Homo sapiens: one gene and its partners. The protein of the gene in region 2 interacts with the protein of the main gene of each other region in a biochemical or structural test. Each region holds a gene or a part of one and is shown on either strand. Other genes may lie near its edges.

What was found.
Region 1: the proteins of PAX2 (region 2) and PAXIP1 form a complex in vitro, tested with the Homo sapiens proteins (one study listed by BioGRID).
Region 3: the proteins of PAX2 (region 2) and NFIX form a complex in vitro, tested with the Homo sapiens proteins (one study listed by BioGRID).

The regions. Positions count from the first base shown.
Region 1 is NC_000007.14:154,997,687-155,008,816, forward strand, and holds the start of PAXIP1 (PAX-interacting protein 1), read right to left. Parts: upstream 5,439-11,130; 5' UTR 5,244-5,438; coding exon 5,163-5,243; intron 3,854-5,162; exon of another isoform or gene 2,394-3,853; intron 1,099-2,393; coding exon 964-1,098; intron 1-963.
Region 2 is NC_000010.11:100,802,535-100,813,122, forward strand, and holds part of PAX2 (paired box protein Pax-2), read left to right. Parts: intron 1-3,895; coding exon 3,896-4,071; intron 4,072-6,575; coding exon 6,576-6,702; intron 6,703-10,588. UniProt on the Homo sapiens protein: Transcription factor that may have a role in kidney cell differentiation. Has a critical role in the development of the urogenital tract, the eyes, and the CNS.
Region 3 is NC_000019.10:13,018,188-13,028,775, reverse strand, and holds part of NFIX (nuclear factor 1 X-type), read right to left. Parts: intron 4,805-10,588; exon of another isoform or gene 4,745-4,804; coding exon of another isoform or gene 4,742-4,744; intron 4,198-4,741; exon of another isoform or gene 4,143-4,197; coding exon of another isoform or gene 4,057-4,142; intron 3,998-4,056; exon of another isoform or gene 3,780-3,997; coding exon of another isoform or gene 3,756-3,779; coding exon 3,224-3,755; intron 1-3,223.

The DNA of each region.
Region 1 (11,130 bases), on a different chromosome or scaffold from region 2:
ATCTGAACAATTCTTCCACTAGCTGAATCCCTCATTCTCTGCAATAAATTACCCATAGGTCAAGTTGGATACACCCCAGACGACCAGTGGGTAGACAATGTGACTAAAGGCCATTGTGACTCTTGTCAGAAAGGAGTTCCACAACATAGTTAATGGGGGACGCCCTTCAGCTAACTGAAATTCAGAACACCTTGCCACAGTCGGGATGGAAAGTAACCCTGTCCTAGAGTTACCTCCCGACAGGCCTTAGCCTGCTTTTGGAATGAAATACACTCTTACAATAATTCAAACACCCATCTGATTCAAGGCATCAGATCTGTTTCCCATGACAGGTTTCCCTGGCTCAGAAAACTTCCAGGCAGTGGTAACGTGGGACGAGTTCTGCAGCAGGCATAAAGGATGGCCTAGGATTACTTACGACATACAGAAGCCATGCTCTACCTTGGTTTAGCTGAAAGGACCTGAAGCTAAGGGAAGTTACTCAGACGTTAAAGATGTCCACAGTTATCTGGCAACTTTCCACACAAAACAGGACTTTAGGGCCAGCACGGTGGCTCATGCCTGTAACCCCAGCACTTTGGGAGGCTGAGGCAGGCGGATCACCTGAGGTCAGGAATTCAAGACAAGCCTGGCCCAACATGTTGAAACCCTGTCTCTACTAGAATACAAAAATTAGCCAGGCGTGGTGGCAGGCACTTGTAATCCCAGCTACTCAGGAGGCTGAGGCATGAGAATCACTTGAACCCGGGAGGCGGAGGTTGCAGTGAGCTGAGATCGTGCCATTGCACTCCAGCCTGGGCAACAGAGCGAGATTCCAGCTCAAAAAAATAAATAAATAAAAAATAAAAATAAAATAAAACAGGACTTTAGCAAAAACCCTGAAAAGAGCTATAGTGAAACTTCAATGTACTGCTTGCAAGATACTGAGGAAAAGATATAAAACAAATTATGTTTACTACTGACCTTTACAACAGGTAAGTCAAAGACTTCCCGAGCTTCTCCCACCTCTGGATTGTCCCCATCCTCTGAGATTATGTGTGAGGCTAGTGCATTGTAGGAAACTTCCTTCGCTTTTCCAGCCTTGAGAAGCTGAATAACCTAAAAAACAAGAAAATCCACACAAATTAAAATGGGCAATACTGTACTGTACTCTTGAATTACAGAAATAATTATTGGGCATAATAGTACTTTTTAATAAAAACACACCATATTCCCCACATAAAAACTAACAGCCTTTTACTCTGAATAATATGCCAATGAAACTTTCGGGGACAATCAAAAGCAGCAAATCTTGATTCACTGACCAAGTCAATGACCAAGTAATGGAGGCTATTGTGAGTCCAGTAGTGGACATGGTCTGTCCTCAAGACAGATGGGCTGGACAAACCAGGAGACAGCACAACCACTGCTGCGGTGGGGCCACGCACATGGTGCTCCTGAGCTTCCAACTTAAAGACTGGGACATGGGGAGTTTCATAATTAGGGAAAGATTCTGGAAGACAAGATATGTGAGCAGAACCCTCATAAACGTCTGGGTGTTAGGCAAAAATCCATACATCGAGGAAGAGGGAGCAGTGTTGAAGGCACTGAACAGGTGAATACAGAGCAGACCGTAAATGGGCTTTCTTACACACTATGCAAAAAAGTCTGTGCTTCATTCTGGGGTATATGCAGGGCCACTGAAGGATTTCACACAGGAAAAGTAGCACAGATTTCATACAAAGATGACAGTCCATGTGAAAAGAAAGGATTGGGTGGGCTGGCTGTGTTTGGTTGGCTAGATGACTAAAGACAAGAGACCTGTTAAGAAACAAGTGCAATAACCCAGGTGAAAGAGGCATCCACTAAAGTGATGTCCTGATGGGCAGAAAGGAGGAAGATGTGAGAGAATCGGCAAGCCTTGGTGTCTGGAAGGGGTATAAGCAAAAGAGCAAAGTCCAGACTGAAATGGTGGTGAGTACCACTCACTGAGGAACACATCAGAAGGCTGGCAGGTGGGGACACAAGGACGTGTTTTAGTTTGGGCATGCCATTCTTTGGGGGTCGTGTTAATATCTGGCAAGAGGCATCCAGTTGCAGCTAGGAAAAGATGTGGATCTCCCTGACAGAAAGTCATCAGCATTGTTACATAGATGGGAGCCACAGCCATGAGCGTGAAGGTGGTCGCAGTGCAGAATGGGAGGGGAGCTAGAGAGCAGACACAGCAACTGATACTTCAGGGACAGGTAGGGAAGTGCAGTATCACAGGAGAGGAGCGTCAACAGAAGCCAAGGAAGTGAGGGTTAAGGAACAGTCGACAGTCAAGTGCTTCAGAAGAGGTGGGCAGTGTCTAAGCTGACAGTGCACACCAACTGTCAAAGTGACATGGTGCCCACAAAGCTCAAGTGACCCACCAGGGCAACGCTCTTCCAGGTCCCCTCTCTGCAGCAGAGAGCTTTCTTCTTTCACTTATTAAACTTTTGCTCCAACCTCAAAAAAAAATAAAGTCACCCACAAGCTAGACAACCTTTTCAGAATACTTTACCGACCACTAATAGATATGAACTAGAGCAGAGGCTCAATATTTAGTAAGTGAAAAAACAGCGGTCACTGGCCATGGGCCACTTTACCTTTCTTCCTTCCCTTGACCTCTAAGCATTTTTAGCTTCACGCATCCATTCGACTGGTCTTCAGAAAAGGCACCCCTCCTTTTCCTATCCTCCAGTCTGTTTCTGATCCTACTCCCTTCTTCATGAGTTTCCCTGTCCATAGCTATGTTCCCTCCACCTGTAAACAGTAAAGTCACCCACATCCTTCCACGCGCTTGTGATGCAACACAGATCCCTCCCCAGCCCTCTCTTCCTCAGGCACCTTCTCTATTTCCTTCTCAGGACAAACTTCCTGAAGAGTCTAACCTTTCTGTTCTCAGTTTCCATTCACTCTTCAACTCCCTGCAATCCAGCCCCTTCCACCAACACTCTACCAAAAACACTTTACTCGGTTTTCACGAACTTTGAGGATGCCAAAACCAATAGCTTCTCTTCAATCTCCACACTACTGAGTATCTTAATAGATTTATCTCATATCACTCTGTTCCAGATATAGTGATCATCCTGATGTATCCCAAACGCATGAATGCCTTCATTCCTCAGCACATACGCTCCACATGAAAATATTCCTTCATGTTCTTAACTTCTGCTTATCTCAAAACCCAACTGAAATGACATCTACTGAGTGACATTTCAGTGGTGTCTACTTTGCACCCCAGTGGAGAAATCTGCTACACCTTGTACTGTGATATGTCCAGGTGTGCTCCCTCCCCCACCAATGAGGGGCGCTAAAGGGCAGGTACCATGTCCTCTTCACCTCTGTATTATACCTGGCACCTAGTCCATGCCTGCCTCATATTAGATGGTCAACATGTGAACTTATAATCCACAGTCATAAGAGTCAGAGAATCAGATGTCCAGGCTCAAAACTTTTCAGAAAATATACTGTTTCAGATGAAAGTGGTTTGCCAAGGACATTTTTAAGCACTTAGATTTGATTCAAAGTCGAGTAAATATGGTTCCAGTTCAACTTGTTCCAGGTTTTAAGTAACATTTGGTTCAAGTCCCCTATAAGAGCCAAAGTCCTAAAATGAAACACGAAGGCTAGGAAGGAGGGGGAAGAGAAAAATGGTGGATAGCAAAAAACAAAAACAAAAAAACAAACAAAAAAAAGAGGGGCGGGGGAATCATCAATACTGGAAAAAGCTAACACTGTTACAGGCACTCATCTTCATCGCTCCGTGTTCAGCAACTGTTTTACTCTGTAAATTCAAAGATAGAAGGCTTTTTTTTTTTTTTTGAGACGGAGTCTAGCTGTTGTTGCCCAGGCTGGAGTGCAGTGGCGCGATCTCGGCTCACTGCAACTTCCACCTCCCAGGTTCCAGCAATTCTCCTGCCTCAGCCTCCCGAGTAGCTGAGACCACAGGCGCCCGCCACCACGCCCGGCTAATTTTTGTATTTTTAGTAGAGATGAGGCTTCACCATGTTGGCCAGGCTGGTCTCGAACTCATGACCTCAGGTGATCCACCCGCCTTGGCCTCCCAAAGTGCTGGGATTACAGGGGTAAACCCGGCCTTGAAGTCTCTTTACCCTAAAGTTACAGGGCAAAAAGGGTCCAAAAAGTTGTTACAAGGACGAACCTCAAGAAGGCCAAGATCACTCAGCCTTCTACAATTCCTTCTACACCATCCAAGTTCATCTGCGAAATATGAGTCTCCGCCCTTCCAGGCCTAACTCTGATCACTGGGGATCCCCATCCTCCAAGGTGGGGGCCACTGATGTCACACCCAAGGCAACACAACTGTACAGCTAAACTTTTAAGAAGGAAATATTTTGAAGATTAACCTGAAGAGGATATTCAACTAAGATGCATTCCTACCACGGACTGATAACTGTGTGACATCAAACAGATATATTATTATAGGAATACTAAGGAAAACCCACAATATCCTTTGGCGTGAGCCCAAACTACACAAAATTAAATGTGTAATGTGATGGTGTTACCAGGGTACCGTAAAATTAATCGTCCAAGTGGGAAAATCAAGGAAGACGAATGCCAGCCCCCACGTGCAGGGACACAGGCTGGAAGGGAGCGCTCCTCAGCCCCGCACAGGACGGCAGCTGCCCGGGTGGCGGAGGCGGCCAAGCCGGTGCACGGCCACGACCCCCGCCGGCCGAGCGAGGCTGGGGTCCCCGCGCGAGCTGCCCCGGCTGGGGATCCCGGCGCCCCTCGTCCGCCCTCGGAGCTGCTCTCCCGGGAGCCGAGACGCCCGGCGCGGGGAATGGGGAGACGCGACCCCGCGCCCGTCCCGCTCAGCAAAGGAGCAGAGAACGAGGCGGCCCGGTGGGTCGGGGGCGGCGACCCCAGGGCCGCAGGCCGGGGGCTCAGGGCGCGCACTAGGGGCCGAGGTACAGAGCCCCAGCCGCCTTCCCTCCCGCACTCCCCCGGGCCCGGGCCTCCCGCGCCCACCCCGCGGTCGCCCCTGCCCTCAGCGCAGTCAGGCCAGCGGCCTCGGCGGACCCGACGCTCTGCGCCCGGCGCGCGCCCGCGGCAGGAGCGGGGACGGGGACGGGGACGGGGACGGACGGGGACGCGGACGGGGGAGGAGGCCGCGGCAGGGGCGGGCGCGGTACCTGCGGGTCGATGTCGCCCACCGCGTAATACTTGACCTCCCTGAACATCTCCTCAGGAACTTTGGGCGCCTGGTCCGACATGATCGCGGCGGCCCGGGAGGCTCCGCGGCGGCGCCCGGCCCCGCCCACCCCCCGCCCCCGGCCCCCGCGGCGCCCGGCGCCCCCACTCGCCCCGCCAACGGCCCTGCCCGCGCAGCCCGGGCCCGGTCCTGCGAATCGGGGTCCGCTCCCCCGCCCTCCGCGCCCCCGCCCGCGCCCGCGCCGAGCGCCCGAAGCGCGGGAGCCGCGCGCGCCCTGCGGGACGCACCATCCCGCCCCGGCCACCGAGGGGGAGCGCCGAGGAGCCGCCCGGCCTCCAGTGACGCCCCGCGCCTCTGCCGCCAGCCACGGCTCCGGGGTAGCTGGCGCCGGCAGCCCGCTCTGGCCCTTGCGGTTCCGTGGCCGCCGCTCTGCAACGAGGGGGCCCCGAGGACGAGGGGAAACCAGCTCCCCCCTCGGCGGGGCCGGAGTGAGCCGGTCCCGGGGAGGAGGGGAGCTGGCAGGCCCCTCCCGTCGCCACATGCGGCTGCTCGGGGGCGGCGCATGCGCGCGGCGGAGGGGGGGGTGGGGCCTTGGGGCCGCGAGTGGGAGCGGGAGCGGTTCTGCGGCCTCCTCGGGCTTCTTGGCCCTGGGCGGAGTGGGATTGGGTGTCCCGGCTGTTCGCAGTGGCCGCGAGTGCGGCCGGACCTGGAGTAGTACCTGAGCCGCTCTGGCCGAGCAAGGCGCGGGGCCCCGGTCTACACCGCGCTGGACCCGGCTATGCCGTGACGGAATTCCCGAGGCCGTAGCGCCACGCGAGACGCGCACTGGTGGCCTCCGCGGCGAGTCCTGGGGTCTCCGCAAGGCCTCAGTGCCCGAGCTGGGGACGTGCTGGGGGGAGGCCCGGCCCCGTCGCTGCCCGAGGCCCCGCTGTCCCGGCCGGACCGGCCTGGTCCCTGGCGTCCTGTCGGGTCCGCGCTGGAGGAGAGTCCCAGACAGCAGAGCCCGCGGTGCAGCTCCAGCCCCGGGAAGCCCCGCGCTCAACAGGTTAATACTACACAGCGGCGATTCTAATGGTCACGCTTTTATTTACAGCTCGCCTCCCTTCCGCCAAGATTCACAGAACACGGCAGAGTGGCCTCGGGATCACCTGCCCAAGACACCTGCACGACCGGAAGTTGGGAGAAGAAATTAAGGCCATGATGATGAACGCAGCCTTTCTCGTTTATTTCCAATCCCACAACAAACCGGAGTCCAGGAACTCATGGGTGATTATCGGACTATTACCTAGTCGTAAAACTGTGGAGCATTGGTGTCTAAAGGAATCTGAGACAGACCCGCAGTGTCTCCCCCACATGCCTTAAGTCACTTCTGCCAAGCAGAAAATCATTTTTAAGTAAATGTTAGTGAAATTGGTTTTAAAAAAGAGAAGGGGCCGGGCGCGGTGGCTCACGCCTGTAATCCTATCCTTTAGGAGGCCGAGGTGGGCGGATTGCCTGAGTTCAGGAGTTCGAGACCAGCCTGGGCGACACGGTGAAACCCCGTCCCTACTAAAATACAAAAAATTAGCCGGGCGTGGCGGCACGCGCCTGTAGTCCCAGCTACTCAGGAGGCTGAGGCAGGAGAATGGCTTGAACTCGGGTGGGGGAGGTTGCAATGAGCCGAGATCGCGCCGCTGCACTCCAGCCTGGGCGACAGAGCGAGACTCTGTCTCTGAAAAAAAACAAAACAAAACGAGAAGGCTTTCAAAATTACTCTGCGGTACACTAATTTAACAGATTAGATCACTTTCCAGGCTTTAAGTTGGCCTTTGTTCTACCCTTTTTTTAGTGTATGATAAAAGTTGTGTTGGTTCGTTGATCAGCATGCAATGAACTCTGGCTCTTGTTAATCAGGTGACTACAGTTTTGTCCTTACATTTGTATGTATGTCATGAGTGGTTTTGTATGGGCAGGAGGTAAACAACGCACATTTAAATATACTTAATGATTTATCATTCCAATGTTTTCTGGTTGTTTTAGTCTTTCATTTGTCTCTTGAACAATCTGAAACATCCCTATTCTAAGGCTAAAAAATTTCCTTTACAAACTTAGGTTAAACATTCCTAATCTGAAATCCAAAATGCTCTAAAATTCGAATTTTTTTGAGTACTGACGTGACCCCACAAATGGAAAATTCCACACTTGCCCTCATGTGACACTGGGTGACAGTCAAGTCACAATCAAGCCTGGTGTGGTGGGCACCTGTAGTGCCAGCTACTCGGGAGGTTGAGCAGGAGGATTGCTTGAGCCCAGGAGTTTGAGTCCAGCCTGGACGATATAGCCAGACCCTGTCTGTAAAAAAACAAAAACCAAAACAAAAAAAACAATGAAAACATTTTTTTTTAAAACGCCATCAAAACTTTGTTTCATGCACAAAATTATTTAAAATATATAATATAACCTTACCTTCAGGCTATGTGGGTAAGGTAAGGTGTATGTGAAACAAATGAATTTCCCATTTAGACTTGGGTCCCATCCCCAAGATATCTTATTATGTATATGCAAATATTCCAAATCAAAAATATCTGAAATACTTTTGTCCCAAGCATTTCAGATAAAGGTTACTCAACCTGTAATAAAAACACTCAGTGCTTGCCTGAAGGAAAAACCAAGAATTTGTCATCCATCCTTAAATTTTTATGACACCCTTTGTAATCAGGAAACCTTTTAATACCTAAGAATATATTTGATATATTCTGGTATATGTTTATCATTCTGATGTTTAATGTTCTATGTTGGGCATATATCAGTGTAATAAATACATTAGATCCAAATACAGATCATGCTGCCTTTTTATCGACCTGTGTGAGAGAACTTATTTATCCTTTTCTTTTTCTTTCTTTTTTTTGAAACGGAGTCCCACTCTCACCCAGGCTGGAGTGCAATGGCGTGGTCTCAGCTCACTACAACTTCCACCCCCTGGGTTCAAGCGATTCTCCCACCTCAGCCTCCCAAGTAGCTGGGACTACAGGTGCGTGCCACCACACCTGGCTAATTTTGGTATTTTTAGTAGAGACAGGTTTTCACTATGTTGGCCAGGCTGGTCTTGAACTCCTGACCTTGTGATCCTTCTGCCTCGGCCTCCCAAAGTGCTGGGGTTAAAGGCGTGAGCCATCACACCCGGCCCTCCCTTTGATTTTCTTGGTTAAACACAAACTAAGCATGTGATTTTATGTTAAAAGACCTGAAGTGGACCTCAACCAGGTATTTTATTTTGTGAATTAAGAAAGCAATTTGTAACGTTCAAGAGAACAAGCTTACCCTACTTCAGGTTCTGATGGTAAGGCAAATTGCGGGATTAAGAAACCTGCTATTTAAGGCCAGCGTGGTGGCTCACCCCTATAATCCCAGCACTTTGGGAGGCCAAGGCAGGCAGATCACTGGAGGTCAGGAGTTCAACACCAGCCTGGCCAACATGGTGAAAGCCAGTCTCTACTAAAAACAAAAATTAGCTGGGCATGGTGGCGTGCACCTGTAATCCTACCTTCTTGGGAAGCTGAGGCAGGAGAATCACTTGAACCCGGGAAGCAGAGGTTGCAGAGAGCAGAGATCACACCACTGCACTCCAGCTTAGGTGGCAGAGTGAGACTCTAAATAAATAAATAAATCTGCTATTTAAAACCCCATCACCTAGTCAGTATTTGTAAAATATCACACGTGAACTGTGCAAGGCGGTCCACACAAGTGGATCTTACGGCAACAGCATCAGGAAGGCCTGGAGGCAGTGTCACACTCACTCACTGAGTCTCCAATACTACTGCTTGGCCAGTAATGAAAAATAAAAATGTTTACATTAGGTTAATTTCATGTGGATAAAGGATGCTCTGAGGCAGTCTAAAAAACTAGCATCCTGACATCATGAAGAGTAACCCATCTAGCAGAGGACGTAAAGATGGCAAGTCAATATTTAAAGGCAAGCGGTAAACTCAGAAATTATCTTCCCCAAAATGGCCATATGCAAAGTTATAGGAACAAAATATCATGTTGACAGTGCTGTATCTTATTCACAGTTAAATAAAATTCTTATCACTGGTTTTGTGACACTTTAAGGATGACCCATTTTAGGGTGATAGCTATCAGTTTATTAAACAGAAGCTATGCATTTGTTTAATTTGAAGCATATACCACTTCCAAATATGACACTGAGCATTAATATTTTTAGACTTCCCCCAGGTAAATTAAAAGCATGATCATTTTGTTGATAATCAGCCTTTGGAGAATTAAACAGCCTGCTTACTGCCAGTGCTAGTTCAGTAAATATGTTTCTCATTTTCTATTTGGCAAAATTAGATAACCTAAGCCTAGGAAAAATAAAAAATTAGAAAAAAAAAAGTAGATTTGGGGATATTTAACTCAAATTGCCCTTACTGGTGGAAACTCGAGGCAGTTACTTAGATTATTTCCAAATGGCTTTTTTTAAATGTATTTCTATATTGTATACAACAGTCTCAGTCTTCATCTCTCCTGTTCAGCTATCCATACATCCCTTAAAATTAGATATTTTTAATGTTTAGTAAACCTTCAGTTTGGGTTTATAGACAACATTTAACCTTCTCATGAAAGGGTCAGAATACTCCAGTTGCAGGCACAAACAGGCCATAGTTTAGTTGAAGGAGAAACTGCGAACTCAAAGGAGCACTGCTTCTCTGCAGGAAAGATCCCGTCAGTGGACCTGCGGGGCACAGCTGCCACCAGTGTCATGTAGCTATTCAGTGTCGGAAAACTAGAAATCACAAGTGAAGAGAAATTGTAAATTACCTCAAATTCTATGCCCAGAAGCAACCACTATGGAAATCCTTCTAGACATTGTCCCGTATAAATATATTTCCCTAAAAAAAATTATACCCCATACTCTGCCACTTCAAAAAAATCAAGACTGTTTTTCCATGTCAATAAATATCTATATCATTTAATGAATACATAATACTCCCTTGTTTGAATGTACAATATTCTGTATTGTTGCACATTTGTTGTTTCCAATTTAACAATTACAGTACTCCAATGAAGCAATCATCTTAAAATACATGTATAACGTATTATAATGTTCCATCCTTTAAGGTTAGAAACGACGTCCCATACCTGTCTCCCGTCACTCTGAGAACAGTGCGGTAACAGGATCAGCGATTCTCAACCATGGGCAATTTAGCCCCCTATGGCACATTTGACAACGTCTGGAGACATTTTTGGTTGTCACAACTAGGGGGTAGGGGATGCTACTGGCATCTAGTGGTGGAGGATAGGAAGCTGCTAAACATCACGCAACGCATGGGACCGTCCTCCATGACAAAGGACCCGTGCAAAATGTCAATAGTGCCACTGTTGAGAAACCCGGATTAAGATCATGTTGTAACTACATTTCAGTGGGATAAGACTTTGAAAGTTTCCACCGGGCACAGTGGCTCATGCCTGTAATCCCAACACTTTGGGTGCCCGAGGCAGGTGGATCACTTAGGTCAGGAGTTCGAGACCAGCCTGGCTAACATGGTGAAACCTCATCTCTTACTAAAAATACAAAAACTAGTTGAGCATGGTGGTGCGCACCTGTAATCCCAGCTACTCGGGAGGCTGAGGCACGAGAATGGCTTGAACCGGTGAGGTGGAGGTTGCATTGAGTCAAGATTGCACCACTGCACTCCATCCTGGGTGACAGATCTAGACTCTGTCTCAAAAAAAAACGAAAAAGAAAGTTTCTTGCACATAACGCCTTGGTGGCTTCCTTCGGACAGCTTTCTTCCAAATGGGACTTGGCTTCTGTCATGTGGCTTTGTTAGCTGTACAGATGGGGACAAAGCATGTAGAGTATCCTGCTGCAGTTTCTATGGCTGAGCTAGCAAGAGTGGCACACATACCTCCAGCCATTTCCACTGGCCAGAACCTGGTCTCCTGACACCTCCGTAAGCTGTAAAGGA
Region 2 (10,588 bases):
TGGGGCTTACCTGATGAGAGACTGGGTGTCCTTGGGTGCCAGGCCAGTCAGATGGCCAGTCCCAAAACCTTCTGCCAGAGGTATGGCTTTGAATGCCACCCGGGAGAGTCTGAGTACCTACTCGGGGCCATTCCTGATGCTGGAGCTGCAGAAATGCATTAGTCACGGTCCCTGCCACAAGGTGCTCTTTGACTGGCTGCTGGGCCTGGGGGCAAAGGGGCTGTTGGATAGGGGATCTTCTTTGAAATGGATGGTGTCTAATCACTCACGCGCTCTCCTTCCCTGCTCACTAGATTAAGATCTGCTTTTACATCCTAGAAACCTAGATTAAGATCGGCTTCTGCTTCCACCTCTGTTTCAGCCCAGCTCTGCCAGACAGCCCTTCAACAGCTGGGCCTAACAGTGGTCTCTTTCTTCCTCCTTGCCGTCCCGTCTGAGACTTTGCCCTTGGAAAGTCCCATGCCGAGCTCGCTCCCCATCTTCCCGGGAGAACCCTCTAGGTGGTCAGCACTGACAGCTGTCTTCCTTCTTTCCTTTTTGACTCTTCCTCCTTTACTCTCTTCTTCTTTTCCTCCTCCTCTCCTTCCCCTGCAAAGCCACCCTCATCCAGGCCCTGGGCAGAGAAGGTATCAGGACACCCAGTCTTCAGCGAAAGTAGAGCCAGCTGGTTTTATTCCTGCAGTAAGTGTCCTCACCCCAGCCAGCACTTCCAGCTTCTGGTGCGGAAGGCTTCTTCCCTTTCTTCCCCTCCTTCTTTCTGCCCTTCCACGCCTCTGGGCTTCCTCCTTCCCTGAGCTTATCCTCCTTGGACCTTCTGATCCAGGGCTTCTCCCAACCTCCTTTCCTCATTCCCTTCCTGCCCTCTCTCCTTGCCTTCATTCCTCCCTTCCTTCCCTAGCTGATGGAAGGATGCCACCCCCTCCTCTGGAAAGAGCCCTTGAGAGCCTATGGTACGTGTGGTGTATTTGGAGGGCTGGCTGGCTGTCCCCCACCAGTAATGCCACTGCCCTCTCCTGGGCCCTGCGGCTCACCTCCCTGCACCCCATAAGTTTCTTTGTGCTCCTTCGCCATTCATCATGACTGCTGCCTTCCTTCTCCTACAGGAGTTCCCGCAAGCCTCCTCCAGCCTCTCTGGGGGGTGGGGGTTCTCCGCATGCTTTCATCACACCACTTTGTTTTCCTTCTCCTCTAACGCCTCCTTTCTCCTCCCCACTTCCCTCTCCTCTGCTTCCCCGCCTCCCACTGCCACCTCTTCCAGTAGCAGGCTTCCTTAGCCTTTGCCTCCTTTCCCTCCCCCTTCCCCTCCTTTGCTGCCTCTGTAACCTGTCTTACCACCAGGGCCTGAGTATACAAAAAAATAAATAAATAAATAAAAAGGTCAGTGAGTGGAGGGAGCAGCAATAACCCCTAAAACAGTACTATCAGTGGAACATGATTGATCAATTGAATTCCATAGCGGCTGAAAAATGTGGGATTAAGTAGTGTATTATACGCACAATGAGTTGAGGCATGATGTTCATTTCAAGTTCATTTCGCCGGCCTCTGCCACCAGATCAGGCAATCAATAGGGGCAGCAGATATCATATATCACCTCTCTGCGGGCCGGGGAGAGAGCACCATAATCTCTCGCAAATTTAGAGTGACAGATTTGTCAAGATCTGAAGGGCCCCTGAATAAATGAAGGCAAAGAGACTCCTCCAGCCAGTGACCTGAGGACAAAGCTTCAGTTCAGCCCCTACACACACACACACACACACACACAGACACAGTGAGCCAAGCCACACACAGACAGGCATATACACAAATCTACACAGAGGCATGAGGAGAGTCCTGCCACACATGCACACACATAATGTGTGAACACACGCTCACAAATACACCCTCTCTGCCCCTACAATAACCATATATGAAGATATTTGATGCTTTCCTCAGCCCTGAGAGTCCGGCTTCCCCAAAAGGTAGGAGGGCTCCAGGAAGGGAGAATCAAACACAATAGGACACGCAAATAGCTACAGGGAGTGAAATGAGGATGATGGCACATCCTGAAAAAAGAAGTAGGCACAGGAGAAACGGGGCATGTGGCCTCACAGTCCTCATGCAATCACACACAGACACACACATTCTTTCAGGAAGCTTCTCATTCTATTTCCACACACGCAGACCCTTGTTTATCTGGACGTTTATATATGTACAAGCGCGTAGACACGCAATACTCACACAAAAGGGAAAAATAAATTTACCACACTTCAACTTTCAACTCATATGTTGATGCATACATCCCGTAAGACTGAAATGATTCCAGAGCCTTATGCAGAAGAAACCACAACCACCAAGTTTTGTGTTCATGGGAACAAATACCATTGAAGCTGCTTCTGTCTGTCTTCTTCAGATGTGGTCCTGGTCTTGATCTCTGTCTCTCTCTCCCTCTCTTTCTCTCTCTCCTTCTCTCTCTCTCTCTCTCTCCTTCTCTCTCTCTCTCTCTCTCACATACACACACACACACACACACACACACACACACACACACACACACACACACACTTTCTTTGCTTTCCCACCCCCTCCAGAATAGATATGGAGGGAAGATGGGAGGTCACATTAGGAAAGCAAACCCCATGCTCGGTCTGGGAGGCCAGCAAGGGAGGATGGCTGCAGGTTGAGTTAATCAATATGTAATATTTTCTATGGTCTCCTGAATGATACTGTATGGTGTTACTGTATATAATGCAATATTGATTATATCATATCGTATAATCACCTATAAACTGATATATATAACATTCCCAGAGGAACACCCTGGGGCCTCCGGCATGGGCTGGCCCCAGGCCCAAGGCTCCTCAGCTGGTCTTGGGCTGAGGGAAGCCTGGAGTGACCAAGCTGGTATGGGGTTTGGGGGGGAAACCCCACTTTGGGGGGCTGCAAGGTGTGGGTTCAGAGAGAGGCCACAGAGCAGGCACATTGCCTACTGTACACCTTGAAAACTCCAAGGAACCGACGCTGGGAGGCAAGGATAGGGGAGGGCTGAGAACGCCTGAGGAAAGGGGACATGGAGACAGGATTGGCCTGTAGACTCAGGGGAGCAGGCACCGGTGTGATAAGACTCTGCTCCCTCTGGAGACTTGCAGGAGGAACCAGGTGACCAAGAAACTGGCTCCTGTAGGAGGCTTGAGCCTGGGTCTAGGTTGGAGACAGAGGCCGAGAAGGCGGCCAGGGCATAGAGGCATCCACAGGGGCCCTTCTGTGGGCTCTGCCCAAGCGGGAGCTTTGCTGCTCTAGCGACACCTCTTTCCTCCCGCTTGGTTTCCCTCTGGCCTCAGTCCTGGCCCAACCCAAGCAGAGTGCCTCAGCTCTGCCTCAGAGCCCCTCCTCCCTCAGGGCGAAGTTGATTACTTCACCCAGTCTCCAGGTTACACTCGGCCTCGGAAATTTGATGGTTTTCAACCCTTGGAATTAGTGGAACTGAAATTCATCTCGGAGCCGAGTTCAATTCTCCACAGGCTCAGTAATGCCAGTCTGAGACACCCAGCTTCTTTCTTCCCCAGGCTGGCCCTGGCTTGGGGGCAGGGGGTGGTTCAGGGAGACATGCCCCAGGGAGCTGGCTCCTGGGAGCCCCCTGGCTCCACCTCTGCCTAATCCTTCCTGACCCCACAGTGTGACCGCTCCATCTCTTACCAGGTCCTCAGGTCCTTCTCTTCCTTGGGCTTCCTCAGCCAGATCTCTGAGGCAGGGCCACCCTCTGGTGTCAGCCCCACTGGCCCAGGGGCTGAGAGTAAGGGGTCCCATAGGGGTGCAGAGCTCCTGGGCCCGGAACCAGATGCCCACCTCTTTGCCCTGCACTGTTCCTGTGCCTCTGCTGGCCTGGCGCTAACGCCCCGAGTGTCCATGTGTTCTCCAGATGTGTCTGAGGGCTCAGTCCCCAATGGAGATTCCCAGAGTGGTGTGGACAGTTTGCGGAAGCACTTGCGAGCTGACACCTTCACCCAGCAGCAGCTGGAAGCTTTGGATCGGGTCTTTGAGCGTCCTTCCTACCCTGACGTCTTCCAGGCATCAGAGCACATCAAATCAGAACAGGTGAGGAGGGAGCTTTCTGCTTGCAGAAGTAGAAAGGAGCCGGCAGAGCAAGGCCTCTCAAAAACTTGTTCACTAAACACCACATGCATAGCCAGCATTGTATGTGTTACACACGTGTGTTCTGTGTGTGTGCAGTGTGAACAGGCTCACATGAGACAGTATGGTATCGTTAAGACAAATCATTATGGTCTGTATATGGTAATTAGAAATGAGTTCTGGGTGCAAGAGTATGGCCTTGGGTAAATCATCTCTGTTCAGAGCCTCGGTTTCCCCATCTATAGAATGAAGGGCTTGGATGTAGGGTTTGTCAAGTCCCTTCTAGCTCCGCTTTTCTGTGGTTCTTGCATGGAGTACTCAGGAACATCCTCTTGCTGTGTCCCTTGCCCACACCCCCTCAGGGTCCTACAGAAAGTCTACGCTAGACTGGGGAGCTCTCCTTGCCCAGTGTCAGGAGAGCCTGCCTGTGCCTGCCTCCTGCTCCCCAAGCCAGCAATTCAATGGAACCCTAGGTAGGCTGGCAGCTTCCCACTTACACCCAACACTTTCTGCAGACACTGAGCAGCCCAGGACACATAGCATGGGGCACAGCATGTAACACACCAGCAAAACGCACAACGCAGAAACCATCTCCGAACTTTTCTATGTGCTGGTGTGCATGTGCTCACACTCCACCATCCACCTGCTCCCCTCACCCACAGCCCATGGTACTGTGCTCACACACCACTGTCCACCTGCTCCCCCACCCACAGCCCACGGTACTGTGCTCACACACCACCGCCCACCTGCTCCCTCACCCACAGCCCACGGTACTGTGCTCACACACCACCGCCCACCTGTTCCCTCACCCACAGCCCACGGTACTGTGCTCACACACCACTGTCCACCTGCTCCCCCGACCACAGCCCACGGTACTGTGCTCACACACCACCGCCCACCTGCTCCCTCACCCACAGCCCACGGTACTCACAGCTAGCCCCGGCAGCCGCATGGAGCCAGTGGGTGTGTGCTGCCCCCAGATCACCAGCTCAGCATACCCCTAGCATATGCCTCCACCCACATACGCTGGGTGGAGCCCCCAGCACACCCGCTCCCACACAGGGGCACACTCCCATCCCTGCTACACATGCAGCCCAGGCCAGGCCCACAGTCACAGCACAAGACAGCATTGCTGTGCTTGCATGCATGCACACACGCACCCACACATGCACGTCAGTGCAGCCCCACAGCGTTGAACGCTGTAGTTCCACTCTTAAGACTCCAACAGCTCCCAGCCACTCGCCTTTCTCCCCGCCCGTCCTTTTATCCCATAAGCTGTTTGTCTTCATAAAACAAAAATCAAAAGTCTTTTTAAGGTGCCCTGAGCCATAAACCAACAAAGGAGGAGCTGGCCGAGGCGGGCGGCTCAGTGCACCCTCCCTGAGTCCCCGCCTGTATTACAATGAATAACCTTTATTTACTTTCATTAGACTATTAAACACCAGCACAGTCATTTTTCCCCCTGAAACTCGGAGCAGGGCCCATAAAGCAAATCCGAAGCCTAATTGAGTTCATTTTAATTTCTCTCCGATCACAGCGAATTACTCTGGTGATAAATCAGGGGGCAGCTTCACCCCCAGTAGAAGGCCTAATTTGCAGCTAATTACAAAACTGATTTCTACAGGAAGATCAATACGAGAAGGAATTGGAAATGACGAGGCAATCCCGTCCAGCCATGGAGGGGAGGGGGTACTCTAGGGGGGCCAGGAAGCGGAAGGGAAAAAAACAGACCCGAAAGAGCAGGAAATCAGTTTTAATTTAACGTAATATTAATCAGAGCAACTTTTCCTGCTTTGTGCAGGCTCCCGGTCTGCCCAGCTCTGGGGTCTGGCTTGGCCGTGGCTGCAATAAAAAGGCAATTACCCGAGTGTTTCAGGCAGGACACCCTTTCAGAGTCAATGACTGGCCCCCTCCTACCCTTCTGTTAGCCATGTGGACTCTCCCCCTCCCCAATTTCATACCCCAGTGCACAGGCAGACAGCGAGGGGCCCATGGGGCTGTCATTGTTTGTTTTTAAAAAAGGGGCGCCCATACCCGATCAGCCAGCAGTGCCAGGCTGAAGGCCCCACTAGGCCCTTCTCCCAGCTACTGGCTCTGCCAGTCATGTCATGGTTCCCCCTCCTCCCCAAGGCTCCTCGACATCCCATGCCTCTCAACAAGGGTATCCCCACTACTACACCCTACCCGCAGGGGTGCTTAGGCAGGAGATGCTACAGAAACATAAAGGGTGCTGGCATTAAGTGCCCAAAATGTGTAAAGGGTGCTGTGCCTCCGGTTTCACCAAGTCAGGTCTACTACCCGCACAAAACTTGCCATCATCCACCAAGCCCCCGCATCTCCCCTCTGCCCCACCATCTCTTTCTACCCCATCTGGGCGGGCTCCCCTGTTCCTCCTCCCCATCTGCACACCGAGCCCTTTCTCTGTGCGTGCATCAATAGAGAGCTGTCACTTTTCTCTCTCCTCCCAGGGGAACGAGTACTCCCTCCCAGCCCTGACCCCTGGGCTTGATGAAGTCAAGTCGAGTCTATCTGCATCCACCAACCCTGAGCTGGGCAGCAACGTGTCAGGCACACAGACATACCCAGTTGTGACTGGTAAGGGGGCTTCCAGGAGGGTGGGGGCACTGCGTTCAGTGGAGGGTGCCTCAGCCCATGCCATCTGAGGCCCAGTGTGAGGAGCAGGTCCCCCACCGTGATATTTACAGAGAGAACGAGGCTTCTAAAACCAGGGTGCTTCCTGAACAGGGGTGTGCAGATGTGGGGAGAAAAAAACTGGGGTCAGGGCATCTGTGGGCTTCAACCTGGAAAGGCTGATGCTAGGAGGGGCTGTTGCCAGTTCTTCCTCCTGTCCTTCGCCTCTCCCTTTGTCTATTTCTCTTCCCTCTCCCAAGTTGCCCAGAATCATGAGCCTCTTGTTAGGATGTCTGCAGAAAGCAAATAAGCCAGGCTGGTGAGAGTGGAGCATGGGTACCCAGTGTCCAGCCTCCACACTTGGGTCTCCAAGGCTCCTGGGGGACCCGCTTACCGCTCCCTCCAGGCAGCATGGGTGATCATGGCTTTGGGCTTGAGGGCATGGCACCCAGCTCTGTGGAGTTTGAGATGAGTACAATTATTCCAGCCTTCCTCCTGCTTCCCAGAGAGGTCAGTGACACCAAGGCTTGATTTCAAGGCCAGGTAGGATCAGGCTTGGCCCACAATCAAATGCAGAGCTAGGGGCGCCATGGCCAGGAGCCCCTACAAATGAAGAGCAGCAGGGCCAGTTAGTTTGGAAGGGGAGGTGGAGTCCAGGGAAGGCCGCAGAGCTCCAGGCTGTGGAATGCACGTGCCACTGCAGAAGGGTTTCCAGGCCAGGAGACTGCCCAAATGGGAGAGACACGCATTGAGGTGTTATTAAAATTCACCTAATTATTCTGGAGACACTAAAGCCAATGTGCCGTTTGTTCCTTGGGAGACAGGATGATTGAGAAGGGTCTCGGTGGGGATTGGGAGACACTGAGGCGTTACCTGCAGAGCGAGGCAAGCGGAGGTGGCCTGCGGACCCAGCAGCAGGGCTGCAGAGCCAGCGGCAAAGGCAGGGAACAGGCACCGCCCACTCTAGGACTGGGCCCTGGTTCTGCCTGTGAGCTGGTCTGAGTGCGGCTGCATTTGAGCCTGAGCTGGGCTCAGTGGCCACCCAGCCTCCACCTGGGGGCTTAGGAGAGCCCTGTCAGTTTTCCCAGCCTCTCCCTAAGGGGCTGTACTGGTACAACTGTTTCCAGCCTAGATCTTTGGCTAGGGAGTCAGAGGTTGAATTCTAGAAGTGTTGGAGACCTGGACTGGGCTTTCGGGAGTGACGACCTTAGCTGGGTTAGCTGGGCCAGGACACAGCCCATGACCAAATGGCCCTCAGCATGAGCCATCCTTCGCCCAGCTGGGAAGCTCTCTGACCTGCTAGGTATTCTGACCCAAGGCAGAGAGACGGCCCAGGCCAGGCCACCTTTCTCCTGACCTGCTCAGAAGTACAGTGGTCACTTCCCAAAGATGGCCACTCCAGGCACTGTTCAAAGAGAACCCGGGAGACTTCTCTAACCCCATCTGCTGCCCAGCGCTCAGGCCATAGTCTAGAAGGCAAGGGCTTCCTAGGGTGGAGCTATGGATCTTCAGGGTAGGGCTCCTGCCACAGGAGACCCAGGGGCTGGTACAGAGAAGTGCCTCCACCTTGAGCAGCCCCCACCCGCCTCCCCCCCATGGCCCTGGAACAGTCCCAGCTCAGCCTGGGAACATCTCCGGCTGATCCATCTGGATCCAAGTGTGAGAAAAGTTCATTTCAGACCCAGCTTGACATTCCCAGGTGGCAAGTTAGCACTAACATCTCAATCTGTATGCGACATTTCAATCAAGCGAGGAGTAACAAAAGCAGAACCATTAACATTCGGAGCTGTTCACCAGTGGTAATGACGGGGAAACTCGCTCAGAAACTGGAAATTACCAAAAAGAGACAAGTGTGTGGAGAGGTGGGGGAGGGAAGATGGGGATAGGGGTAGGGAATGATTTTTCCACACTTAGGCCAAGATCCACTGTTTGGATTAATAGTGCCATTACCCAAGAAAGAGCTGCAGATTATGCTCATTCTTAAAATGTTTTTGCTGGCAATTAAACTGCTGCAGTTATTGATCTTTGTTGATTTTATGTCCTCCTAATTTGCATAATCTATTAAAGATGAATGATTTATGATGTGTTTATTATGGGGACAAACAGAATTTGCTAGAGGTACTGTCAAGGTGAGCCATGGGGCATTGCTCAGAGACTCCATATGCCATCTCAGCAGTGGGTCCAGCATGTTGGCCTTCAGGCCAGGATATTGTGGGTAGTAGTGAGCAGTGATGCAAGGAGAACAGAAACAGGAGAGTGGACTTTGGGTGAGTTCTTCTAGAAAGATACTGGCATCTGTGAGAACTGGGCTCCAGGCAGAGCTGGAGTGCGGGAGAGGCCCTTAGTGTATTTGTGGACACTGACCTCAAAGAGTCTTTAAAAGCTTATTTTCTTGGCAAATATTAAGGGCTTTGGTGGGAGAAGAGAAAAGGAGGCTCTTTTAGGTGGGTAGGTGATTCTGGGGAGGTGTGTGCTAAAGGTAAGGGAGCTGTTAGGTCACCCAGTGCCCATAGCCTGGCTTAGGAGTGCCGAGGTGTTCAAGGAGCCCTCTTTATCCTCCACGTCTCAGGCACCCTGCTCATCTTCTTCCCCAGGACTGACAGCTGCGGCTGCAAACCTTAGGGGATGAGGGAATGCCCTAGCCCAACCTGAAAAGCCAGACCTTATTGAGATTCCTGCCACCTCCTGGCCCTGGAGGCTGATTTCAAACTTCACCAGCCACTTGATGCAGCTATTCCACAAGGTCAGGACTGAGAGGAGAGAGGAACCTAGACTATTGTGTGGAGGGGAGAGTGGGGCCCAGTGGGCCAGGACACAGCTAATCACATTGCAAGCAAGGGTGGCTGCCGGAGGCTAGGGCTCAGCCCCATAGCCTCCCCTCCCCACCTTCCATCAGGGAACCGAGGAGAGAGACTGATTTTGCTGGGTAGTGTTTGCAAGTTCTGCCGAGATTTTAATTTCACTGCATCACAACTCAGCAAGCTGCCAAGTCAAGCTGGTTATTTAAATTTATCACCCACTTTCCCTTCCGCCGCTGGGCTGCTCTAGCTCAGCGGCATCTCTTCTCTCCAGCCCACGGCTCTAGGCTGCTGGTCTGGAACGGAGCCTCGTCTCTCCTAAGTGATAAAGAAAGAGGGACCAGCTACATGAGAGAATGGGTCACGGGCATTCTGGCCCCAGGCTTTTTCAGGTTGGCTGGCTGTGGCTGGTACCTCTCATCACCTTCTTGACCCTCCAAAGGAGCCCAGAGGGGCTGCCATCCACCTCTCAGTAGTCCCAGGGCCCTCCGGGTCAGGGCATCTGCAGTGAGGACTCGCTCCAACTGCATGCAGGAGGCTTCATTCCTTAAAGTCTCCCATCCCTGGAAGAAAAGATAGTCCCTGTTCTCCATAGCATTCTCACCTTGACCCCCCCTCCCCATGTCTGGCCGGGGCTCCAGTGACAAAGGAGCATGCAGAGACACTGGCAGTGATGTTGATCTGGGAGGAGAAGATGAGAACTTACTCCAGGATTCCCAAAGTCACTGGGGATGTTTCTGAGCATTAGAGAGTCCCTTGACACAGTGCAAGTCCACCCCGAAGGAGAGAGCCCAGATGCAAGGAACAGTGCTGGAGAAGTCAGAGACTGTGCAGTTCCATGCTCTCTAGAAAAGGGTTGGCCAATCTTTTGGCTTCCCTGGGCCACTTTGGAAGGAGAAGAAATTACTTAAGTCACACATAAAATACACTAACACTAAGATAGCTGATGAGCTAAAAACAAAAACAAAAATAAAATACCTCATAATGTTTGATGAAAGTTTACGAATTTGCACTGGACCACATTCAAAGCTGTCCTGAGCAGCACGTGGCCT
Region 3 (10,588 bases), on a different chromosome or scaffold from region 2:
CCGTCCCTGGCCACCTGTTCTGGGATACCCGCTTTGAATGGAAGGATATCACCAGGAAATGGATACCCTCCTCCCCACGGCAGTGCTCTCTGACCCTGCCCTGCCTCAACCTCCCTTCCTAAACACAGACAGACACACAGACAGACTCCTTCCCAGCAGGAAGGCCAGCCGCATGGCAGCCTTTTGGACCTAGTATTCTGTATTTGGACCCAGTATTCTGGGAGTGGAGTTTCAACGCCAAACACACGTCCTTTATTCCCTCTCGAACATGTCATCTCTTGAAGCTTCATCTGGGACATAACAAGGGCTCAGGAAGGCCATGGGTGACAATGGCACCTGGGAGCAAAGCCACACCCCCACATTTACCACCACATCACCGTTACTGTCATGAAACCCAGGACCCCCAGCTCAGCCCAGATCTGGCTCTTCAGCCCTGTCTTAAGAAAAGGAAAAACACTTATTTCAGAGTCCAAAGCAGCTCTTGTCTGAGCCTGTGCCATCCCGGCCCCTGTCCCCAGTTTATCATCCTGGAAGGAAGGAGCAAGTGGCAGCTCTGCTGAGTGTGCCTGGCAGGCATGGGCATGGAGAAAGTGGTGCCCACAGATCGATGCTCTTTGGTGGCTCAGCCACAGAAGACATTTTCTAGCAAAGCAAGAAATGTTTTTATTTCTTGCCAGCTCAAGGAGGAAGCAAGCCATGCCTGGTCTGTGCCATCTCAAGACCACCCAACCCAACTCCAAAGAGGAACAAGTGATGCAGCCCACTGGTGGCCCGGGCTGCGCCAACTCGCCTCAACTCACTTCAGGAAGGCACACTCAAACTAAAGCAATTCCAGTGAGAAAAATCCTACCTTCACTGAAATTATCTGGAGTCTGGGGCCTGAATGATATAAAATACACCCTTAGTTCCCTACTCTGCTTTTGTAGAGGAGACTCGGCCTCAGCCCCAGCCCAGAGAAGTGGCCTCGGCTACATGGAATGGGGTATGAATTCACTCATATTCCTGGGCGAATGATCTCTTAAGCTGGCAGGGAGGCATGGTGGGGCCTTTCTTCTGGCCAGGAAACGGTCTGCTTCCTCACATACTTTTCATCCTACCTTAGCCCCACACTGGCAGCAGTCAAGAATTCGGCCTAAAATAAAAGAGGCCAGGGAAACAACTCAGCTACAAGGATCCAGTCAGAGAGCGGGGTTGGAGGAAGCCAGCTCAGAGGAAGATGAGTGTTGATTTTCATCTTAGATGCTCTCGAGCCCCTGGTTCTAAAATTGGAAGGTGCAGAATCCCCTTGTGCAGGAGTATCTGATGGCCACACTGGTAAGCTCGAGGCTCCGAGCCTTCTGCAAGCCACCAGTCACCTCCAATACTACCAGGCACACACCCTCCCAAATCTGGCTTGCTGTATAGACAGAGAATGAGGGGATAACTTTTTTTTCCCTCTCAGTCTGTTTTCCAAAAAGAAAAAAGACAAAAGAAAAAATTCAAGCTGAAGGGAGGGGGAATGACTGGCACCTGGCCCTTCTGCATGACGGGTCACGATGGTCACACAGGGCCGGATGCAGGCCTAGAAAGATCCACAGAAGTAGGTAGAGACTTGGGGGGTGAGAGTGGTGTCCCCTGCTTCTAACCAGTTACCAAAGCAACCTCTCAGGACAAGAATTCCAATACCACCTTCTCCTCTCCACAGTTCTCCAACATGTAAACTCAGGGCTCACTCTAGTCTAGATTACATTCCTGACGCAGTGCTGAAAGCACCCCCAAACCCGAATTTTATTTCTGGATCCAGTTATATCATTCCTCCCAACTTCCCAAACAGGCAAGGGGGTGACCACAGCCATTGTGAATCACTTTTCTTTTTTGTGAATGAACAGGAAGAAAGACACAGAGACACACACTCGCGGAGAAACAACCTTTGCGAGAGTTGAAGTTAAGCCACATTCTCTCAAATTCGCATAAAGAGAGGAAGAAGGAAAATGAAGGGGAAAAAATACTGGAATGGTGGAAAGGAAACACACACACACACACACACACACAGAGAGAGAGAGAGAGAGAGAAAGGTTTGGTAGCCCTCTCATTACAAGTTGGTTGGGCATAATGTAAACACACTTCTGCCTTGCTTAATCACAGAGTGCCGCCCGTTTAGGTTTCAAAGGCGGCAGTAAATTGGGCGTAGCTGAGTGGAGGCTAAAAATTAACCAGCCATCTCTGTTTCAATTTGTAAGAAAACAAAAGCGGAAAGAAATTATAAAAAGGGAAAGGGTAAGGGAAAAAAGGAACAGAGGAGGAGAACTAAACCACCCTGACCCAAAATGCAGGGTAAAACTGGAAAAGCGAAGAGAAGCAGAACTACTTGGAACACAAAAGGAAAAGGAGATTTTACAGAGTTTTTTTTTTTTTTGGTTTGTTTGTTTGCTTGTTTAAGACCTCTTCCACAGCAACGCTGCTCCCTGCCATGCCTGTGCCCCGAGAAAGCCTCTCTGCTCCCCAGTGCCAGGGCTGTGGGCATCCATCCTGAGGCCTTGCCACTTTAGCTGAAATAAGGAGAAGGGAAAGAGCTCAAGGAATCTCGTCCTTGTTTTCACTCTCTATGAAATCAAATTACTTTCATACTGACAGCCAAATCCCAGCCAAAACAGCTCCCGCCTGAGTATTTAGGCCACAGAATCTGCCCACTACTGTCTTCTCTCCTCTTTTCTGTTCATTCAGTCTCATATCCCAGGGTTTCACATGCCCCTTCTCTCCACCGGACTCCTGCCCATCCCGCTTGTACCAAACCCAGTTTTTCCTGGGACTGGAGGTGAAGCTGCAGTAAAACTAGCACCTGCCCCTCAATACTTCTTCTGACTCATTTTAATAAGAGCAATTACTGGTTTGCTGTTGTTGTTCATCTCAAACTCTCACCATCATGGATAATTCTGGGGGCATCATGTCCCCAATCCTAAGACCTGCAGCATCTTTCTGATCAGATAAGTCCTCCAAAGATGGAGATGCACAAAGTCGATACCATGGCCAGGGGGCAGAGGAGGAAGAATAGAACAGGTCGGGGGAGACAGAAGACAGGAAAAAGGAAAAGGGCCCATAGAACCGTGTTGCAGGCCCCGCAGGACGGGCATACACCAGTTAGGCCCATGGCGAGTTATCGCTTGGAAATTAGAGGAACAATAAACAGAACAAATGCCAGCAAGGAAAATAAAATGAGAGGGAAAAATGGTTGAGAACGACCTACCCGGAGTGTGGACAAAGTAAGCCAGATAAAGATCCAGTTCTTTGATTGTGACTCCAATGTGATGTGGCTGGACGCACAGGCCGGGGTTCGAGCACTGAGGCGACTTGTAGAGCCGCTCCCCATCAGTACTTTCCAGGGGGATCCCCTTAAACAAAATCACCATGACCAGGTCCAGCCGCCACACCTTGTCAGCCTGGCGCAGGCAGTCAATCCGCCGGATCTTGCCCTTCTGGTCGGGGTTGGAGAGCACGCAGCAGGGGGGCTTCTTGCCCGTGATGGTCAGCACGAAGTCCTCGCGGAACTCGGGCCGGATGTCCTTGCGCAGCTTGGCCAGCAGCCGGGATGCCCACTTCTGCTTGATCTCGGGCTTCTCGCCCAGCAGCTCGTCCTTCACCGCCCGCTCCTCGTCCTTCGACATCCGCTTTTCATGCTTCTTGAAGTACTTGCGCTTCCGCGCCTGCAGGTTGAACCAGGTGTAGGAGAAAGCGCGGACGTGAGGCAGCAGTGCCTCGATGAACGGGTGGAACTCATCCTGCAGGCGGCAAGCCGGGAGCATGCGGGGCGAGGGAGGACGGGAGGAGGGGAAGACGGGATGAGGGGGAAAGAGAGAAGGAGAAAAGCAGCGTTAGAAGGGGGGGCACAAGGAAAACCGCCTTCTCCTCCTCCTCCCTCCCCCCAACAATTTTCTCTTGCGATTGTTCTACGAAAGTGTGGTTTGAAGCCACCACCAGCTTCGCCAGCCACTTGCTCCCATCTCAGCCTCAGCAGCCAGACAGAGGCACCGGGAGCCTCTACACACACCTATTCTCTCTCTCTCTCCCTCACTCACTCACACACACGCGCACAGACAACGTTGCCGTCCACACACACACGCTGCTGGTATCCCCGCCAGGCTCTGTCGCGCCCATGACATCTCCATGTTCTATCGCAGCCGTGAACTCCTGTCAGCTCGCCCCGGCACAGTGTCCGTCTGCACAGACGCCCGTGGACGCACACGCGGGGGCGTGCGGGGCCGCCTCTGGTCCCCGACACCGGTCGATTTTTGGCCGCCCCCAAGAAGACAGAAAATGACATCCACGAGCAAGCGAGTGAGGAAACAGATCAGGCTTCCCTCTCCCCAGGCTGTTTTCATTTTCTTTTCTCCTGATCCAGTTGGAACATCCACCCCAACATTTTTTAATCAGACCTAAATCCTAAATATGTGATTTCAGCTTTGTTATCGACACCAATACTAATGTTAATCACAGTAATAATGAACAAAACACTTCTTGTTAGCACAAATAAGGTGCTTGTCTCGGCCACATTAGGGTTAAAAGCTACATGGGTCTTCTTGCGACCCCTTCCCCAGCCTCCCACAACCCCTTCACCCTTTTTCCCACTCAGTCAGGTGACAGAAGGATGGGCTCTCTCGGTTTTGTTTGGTTTTTTTTTTTTTTTTTGGTTGTTTGCTTGTTTGAAGTTTAAATAATAATTGATTTCTGTTTACAAAAATAAAACTGGAAAAAATTAAATAATTACCATTGATCTGAAGCACCCGGCAAAGCCCAACGCCCGATTCTGAGATTCTGGACTCAAAAGAGTTGTGAGTTGGGGGCGGGTGGGGGGAGGGGGGAGGAGGAGGAGCAGGGGAGGAAGGTAAATGTTTTAAAGGGGGTTATTATTGGTGTTCTGGGGAATAGGGGCCGGGCTTGGGTGGATTCTCAAACCCTTCCCCCTCCTCCCCCCCCCCATGCTCCATTGCACAGAAGGGGGAAATTAATATTTTTTTTGAAAAGGAGCAAAAAGAAAGAAAGGTCAGGGATAGCAAGCAGAGAGAGGGAGCGAGCCGGCTGCCACACACGCCAGGTAAACAAAAGCCAACAAAATTTTTTTTTCAATTTCTTCCCCTGTGCATCCTCTTCCAGTTTAAAAAAAAAAAAAAAGAAAAAAATGCAAAATTTAAAAATCAAAACCAGCCTCCCACCATCTCCCCACAACCAACAACGCACCCCACCCCACCCCCGTGCAAAACAAAAACAAAAACAAAACCCAGGAGGGAAAAAGCGGCAGCTGAAGAAAAAGGCTTTCGGCTTTGGCAGCGGCACAGGGGTGTAAACTTCGAGCTGCCTGATCGGAGGAAAAGGGGGAGCTCGCAGATTCCCGGGGAAGAGGACGAGTTCTGACCGGCTGCAGACCGTTGCTGGCAGACGCGTGCAAAAGAGAGAGAGGGAGCGAGGGAGGGAGGAAAGGAAGAAGGGGGGGAGGGAGAGATCGAGGATCGAGGGAGGACGTGGATGGGATGGGGCGTGTGTGTGAGTGTGCGCGTGTGTGTGCGCACTGGTTGGGTTTTTGGGGTGTTTTTTTTTTTTGCTCCTTTTCTCTCTCTCAAACTCCCTCTCTCTCTCTCCTTTCAGGCTCAATCCCCATCCATTTGCTTGTGCCAAGCCAGTAAAAAGGGGTGGGGGGAGAAAGAGACAGAGAGAGAGAGAGAGAGAGAGAGAGAAAGAGAGAGAAGGATCCACCTATTTGGCAAAGAGACATCCACGAGCAGCCAATGGCTGCGTCCAAGGGGAGGAGGGAACCGGGCGAGCAGGGAGGGTGGGGAGAGCCCCCGGCAGTTGGAGACCAAAAACAATTTGCCCAATCGACAAGTTCACGTCTAATGAACAAGCAAAGTCCAGCAGTTATGAATTTTTCATTCCAGGCTCCCACTCGGGTCCATTTGGCAGCAGCCACCCAGCAAATCTGGGGGTGGGGTGGGGCATTGGGGGGGACTGGGATTGTGGAAGACTCGAAATTTTTTTTTAAGCCTGAAAAATAAATAAATAAAGGCCTGACTCCCGGCGGGCTGGCGGGCGGGAGCCCCAGAAGGCCTTGGGGAAGCAGCTGCGCCTTCTCTCTGTGTTTTGGTTTCAGTCTTTCTCTCGGGCCTGCACACTCTCTTTTTCTGTTTCTATTTCTTTCTTTCTTTTTTTTTTTCTTCCTATGGAGCACACAGGGGCGAGTGGAAGTTTTCCTCCCCGGCCACATACACACGGGCCTGCGGTGCTATGAATAGAAATAAGAAGAAAGAGAGCTCAGAAAGTGTCCATGCCAGCAGTACTTCCAGGGCAGGGATCTGGTGCCCAGGGTACTGCCACCTTGTGATGCCCCCAGGTCTGGCTGCTGAAGGAGCACTCTCAGACAAGGGGGAGGCCAGCACCCCACACGTCCCTCCCTTCTCCCCCAGCCCCCAGCAAGCTCAGCCTCCTCCTTCGGCCCACACCCAGCCACGCACACTCCATTAGCGGTGACGAGGGATGCCAACGCAACACAGCTCGGCTCGAGAAACTGCAACAGTTTATTAAAATAGCCTCCTGTCACAGCACTCCGCCTGACAAGCTCTACACGCAGCCACAAACAACAGCCAGACCCGGGGAGAAGTGACAAAGGCAAAAAGATGGACACTACCTCTGAGCAGAGGCAAGGAATCTGACCAACGCCCCTCACCACTGCACAGGCATTTAATTCTCCAGATCTGCCCTCTCCAGTTGACCTGAGATTAGTTTTCTTACCTGTCTCCCAAATCAATTTAGACTAAAGAGCCCAAACCCTAGCAGTGCAAAGTGCAAAAGTATAAAATGAGAAACCCAAATGAAAAGAAAAGAGCTAAGAAAGGACACAACAAAAAACAGCAAAGGGCTCTATCAAAAACAGGCCACCTGGGGGAAATCAAGTCACAGAGAAGTGACCCACCGGGGAGCCCCTGCTCTGGTCCTCCACTTGGGGACCTTCCTCACAGCAAGCAGAAAGGGTGAGCACTGGGTAGGGGAGTCCCACTTCTGAGGGGGTCTCTCCAGTTAGAGCTATGGAGCAGCCATGCTTGAGGCCTTCGAAACACAGTAAGAAGGAAATAGATATGACATAAAAGGAAAAGCAGAGGAAGAAGGATGTGGCTGCAGACAGGGAGAAAGGGATCCAATTCCACTCAGAACCCCATCCCTACAGCCGCCCTCTCCCTCAGCGAGGCTCAGTCCTCAGCTGGCGACGGAAAAAAGGTCACTGCTCACTCGTGCCCCTTTCTTCCCCAACTGAAACCCTGTGCTTTGTGGCCTTTATGTTGGCAGAAAGGTTCCCGGAAGAGCACCTGGGGCATGCCAAAATAAAACATCCAGCCCTGGGCTGGCGCTGAACCCTGACAATGGGAGAGGGGCTGCCCAACACCTGGGACCCCAGTCTGTGCCCTGAATTATCCATCTCAAGTGAACTGAGCTCATGGCTGATCCCTGAAAGAAACGGTTAGAGGTGAGAGTACAGAAGGCAGGTGGTATCAGAGACAGGCCTCTTAGGGTGGTGTCCAATAATTCACATCATGTTAATAACCAGCTTCAGTCCAATCAGCCAAAGATGTTAGCTCAGAGACATGACATAAGGTACCAAATCCTGCCTCTCCACCTTGTGGAAACAATTTTACCTTCTAAAGTCAAGATGAGGTCATTAAAAACTACAAGTGAGTTTATATTTGGCATGGAGGTGTTTTTCTTGTATTCTGATTTATACTAAATATTAGACACCAAACAGAAAATGGCCAACACGAGCCTCCTGGAGAATCCTGGCATGTTCCACTTCACAGACCACAGTGCCACAGTAGAAGAGACATGCTCGACATGGGTTGAATCTGAATCTGGTGGTACAACTGGGTCAGGGATAGAGGTGGGGGCAGCAACAGTCCCACAGCTGGGAAATGACAGATGGAAGGATCCATGTAGAAGTTAGGGAAACAGGACAAGATGCACGACTGGCTCCTGGAGAGGGGTTGGGGGTCAAAACTCCACGGACTGGCGGAGAGATCAGAGGAGAGGCGGCAGAAGAGTGTCTCAATAGAGCCTCAGGGACCTACAAAGAGCCCCAAGCACCCCCTCAAGGCTCTCTTAACAGAAGAAGCAACAGGCCTTTCCCAGGGCAGAAAGTTGGAGGAAGAACAATTGTCAATTGTCCTTCTCCTGCCAGTGGCTATAACCTTGCAGGTGGGCAGAAGATTCTCAGGCAAATACTTTCCCCTCACCCCATTCTCTCTATGGGCTGCTGGCTCCCAGTGGAGGAGGCCTTTCTGGAGGAGTGGCCAGGATATTCTGATGCTTCGGGAGATGAGAAGGTCTCTTTCTCTATTTCTCTTTCCTCCCTCCCTCCCTTCCTCCCCTCCTATTTTGGGCGCACACAGAGGAATTGCTCGGGTTCCATTAGAAACATTTCAAGCACCCTTCACTGCGGGCCCCCTCCTCCTGCATGCCACTGGTGGCGGCCATCAGCCCAGACACGCCCCTCATGAGCCCTAGACAAAAGGAAACTGTCCCCCTTTTGTTAAAGAGTGGAGGCTCCTGTTGGAAGATTACCTGTTCCCAGCCCAGCCTCCTTCTCTTCTCCCCTCCAGCCCCAGGCAGGAGATCAGACCGCTTTACATCCTGCACCAAAGACCAGAATCAAGACAAAAAATCCCTCATACGATTCAAGGCTTCTCCAGGTCTGAGTCACTGGCAAGTGTAAGAGTTCAGGTGATGGAAAGAGCAAGGGGACATGCAGGCCACAGAGTAGAAGGACATGGGAAATGGGGAAAGGAAGCCACTGATGCTGGTAATAGGAAGAGAAAAAAAAAAGACAAGGGGGGAAAAAAGGAAAAGCAGGAAACATTGTGGGGGAAAGGTATTTCCCCCATTGGAGAGAAAAATCATCGAGAAGCCAGAAATAAGACTTTTTAAAAATTCATATGGGTTTTTGGTTTGTGGAAAGGGATTTTGCTGCCATTATGGAAGAAAAGCCTCTGTCTTTTATTGTTGAGTACTATTTGGTAAAAAAAAAAAAAAAACAAACAAACAAAAAAAAAACCAGCAACAGTTTTCACTGAAACATTTCTAAAATACATACCCATGCCAGTTTCAGCCATCACTAGGAGAAATGTACCCCCAACAGAAAAAGACTGAAAGGGCCACGGAGAAAGAGAAATAGAGAGAAGGAGAACGAAAAAAGAGAAAAAAGCCAAACCTGGAGAGAGAGTGCCAAGCTAGGCCCACAACTGAAAAGAAAGAAGGACAAAGATGGAGGGAAACAGAACAGCAGAGGAAGAAAAATAAGAAGACAGAAAAGGGCTCTGCACCGCGGCAGAGAAAGAAAAACCAGTTAAGGAAAATGACTGCTTCTCCATGAGAAGAAATGCATGGTTTTCAAAAACTCTACACAACAGACCTGTCCACTGAGCCTGTATGGATTATTTGAAGAAAAATAGGAAAATATGTACAGCACCTCACTCACATATACAGTGTTAAAAATTCTTCAAGGAAACAAAATAATCTTCCCAGACTGAGATAGGTTTTGCAACCTGCCCGCACCTACCTATAGTGAAACATCTAGAAGCATAAGAAGTTGTATATTTTAAGACAGGGCCACTTTTAGTAGCCTTCTTTATCTTAAAAAAAAAAAAATCCTATGTGTCCACATCCTGCTGGCTTTAAGGCCCAGATTTATTCTTTCAGATCCTGGACACTTGGGCCCATGTTGATCTGGGTAACTACAGGCAATTAGAGCAAATAACTTACAAAACTTCACAGAAATGACCAGATATTCCAGTATCCATTTTAATAAAGCATATCTGCAGCCTGGGTATGAAAGGACATGGGAAATTAAAAAGGCCATAAACAGGGCCCCAATTAGTTTGCCCAATTGTTGGAATTTTATAATTCAGCCTTGGTCTGAACCAAAAGAAGCCGGCTTCGTAACCCTGAGCTCTCCCACCTTGTCCCAAGATTACTGCTGCTTCGTGGAAGGCCACAAGAAGACAGTGGCCAGACAGCGGCCAGAGATGGGAAGGGAACTGCAGACATGACGCAGCGGCAGCACTGGGCAGCCAGGGAAGGGGCCCTGCTGCTTATCCTAGAGGAGGGTGGGGCCTCCCCTCAGTTGGGGGCCAACGAGAAGGGGCTCTGTAGTCAGAACAAAATCATCCAAAAGTCTGGAAACTCCAGGAATGGAAACCGGAAAATGCACTTTGCGAGGGAGCTCGGATAATTTGGACAAAGCGGGTTTTTGGCTGACTTGGGCCTGTTTTCCTCTGCTCAGGAAAGGCGGCTCTGCGCAGTTTCTTTCCAGTGTCCTCATGCTGGCTGAATGGATTCGCCCCACACCCCAGTGCTGGGTCTAGGACAGGGTCTGCCTCACAGCCAGGCCGCACACTTCTCTCCTGTAAACCGCGCCCCCCCCCCCCCCCCGCCCCTTCCTTTTCTCCTCCAGACTACAAACCAGGAGCGGTGGCCTGGGATCGGGCCAACAGGCAGCCTCGTTCTGGCTCCAAATGCTCCTCTGCTCCAGGCACATCTCCCTTACCCTCTTGGCACAGAATAATATAGGGTAGGAATG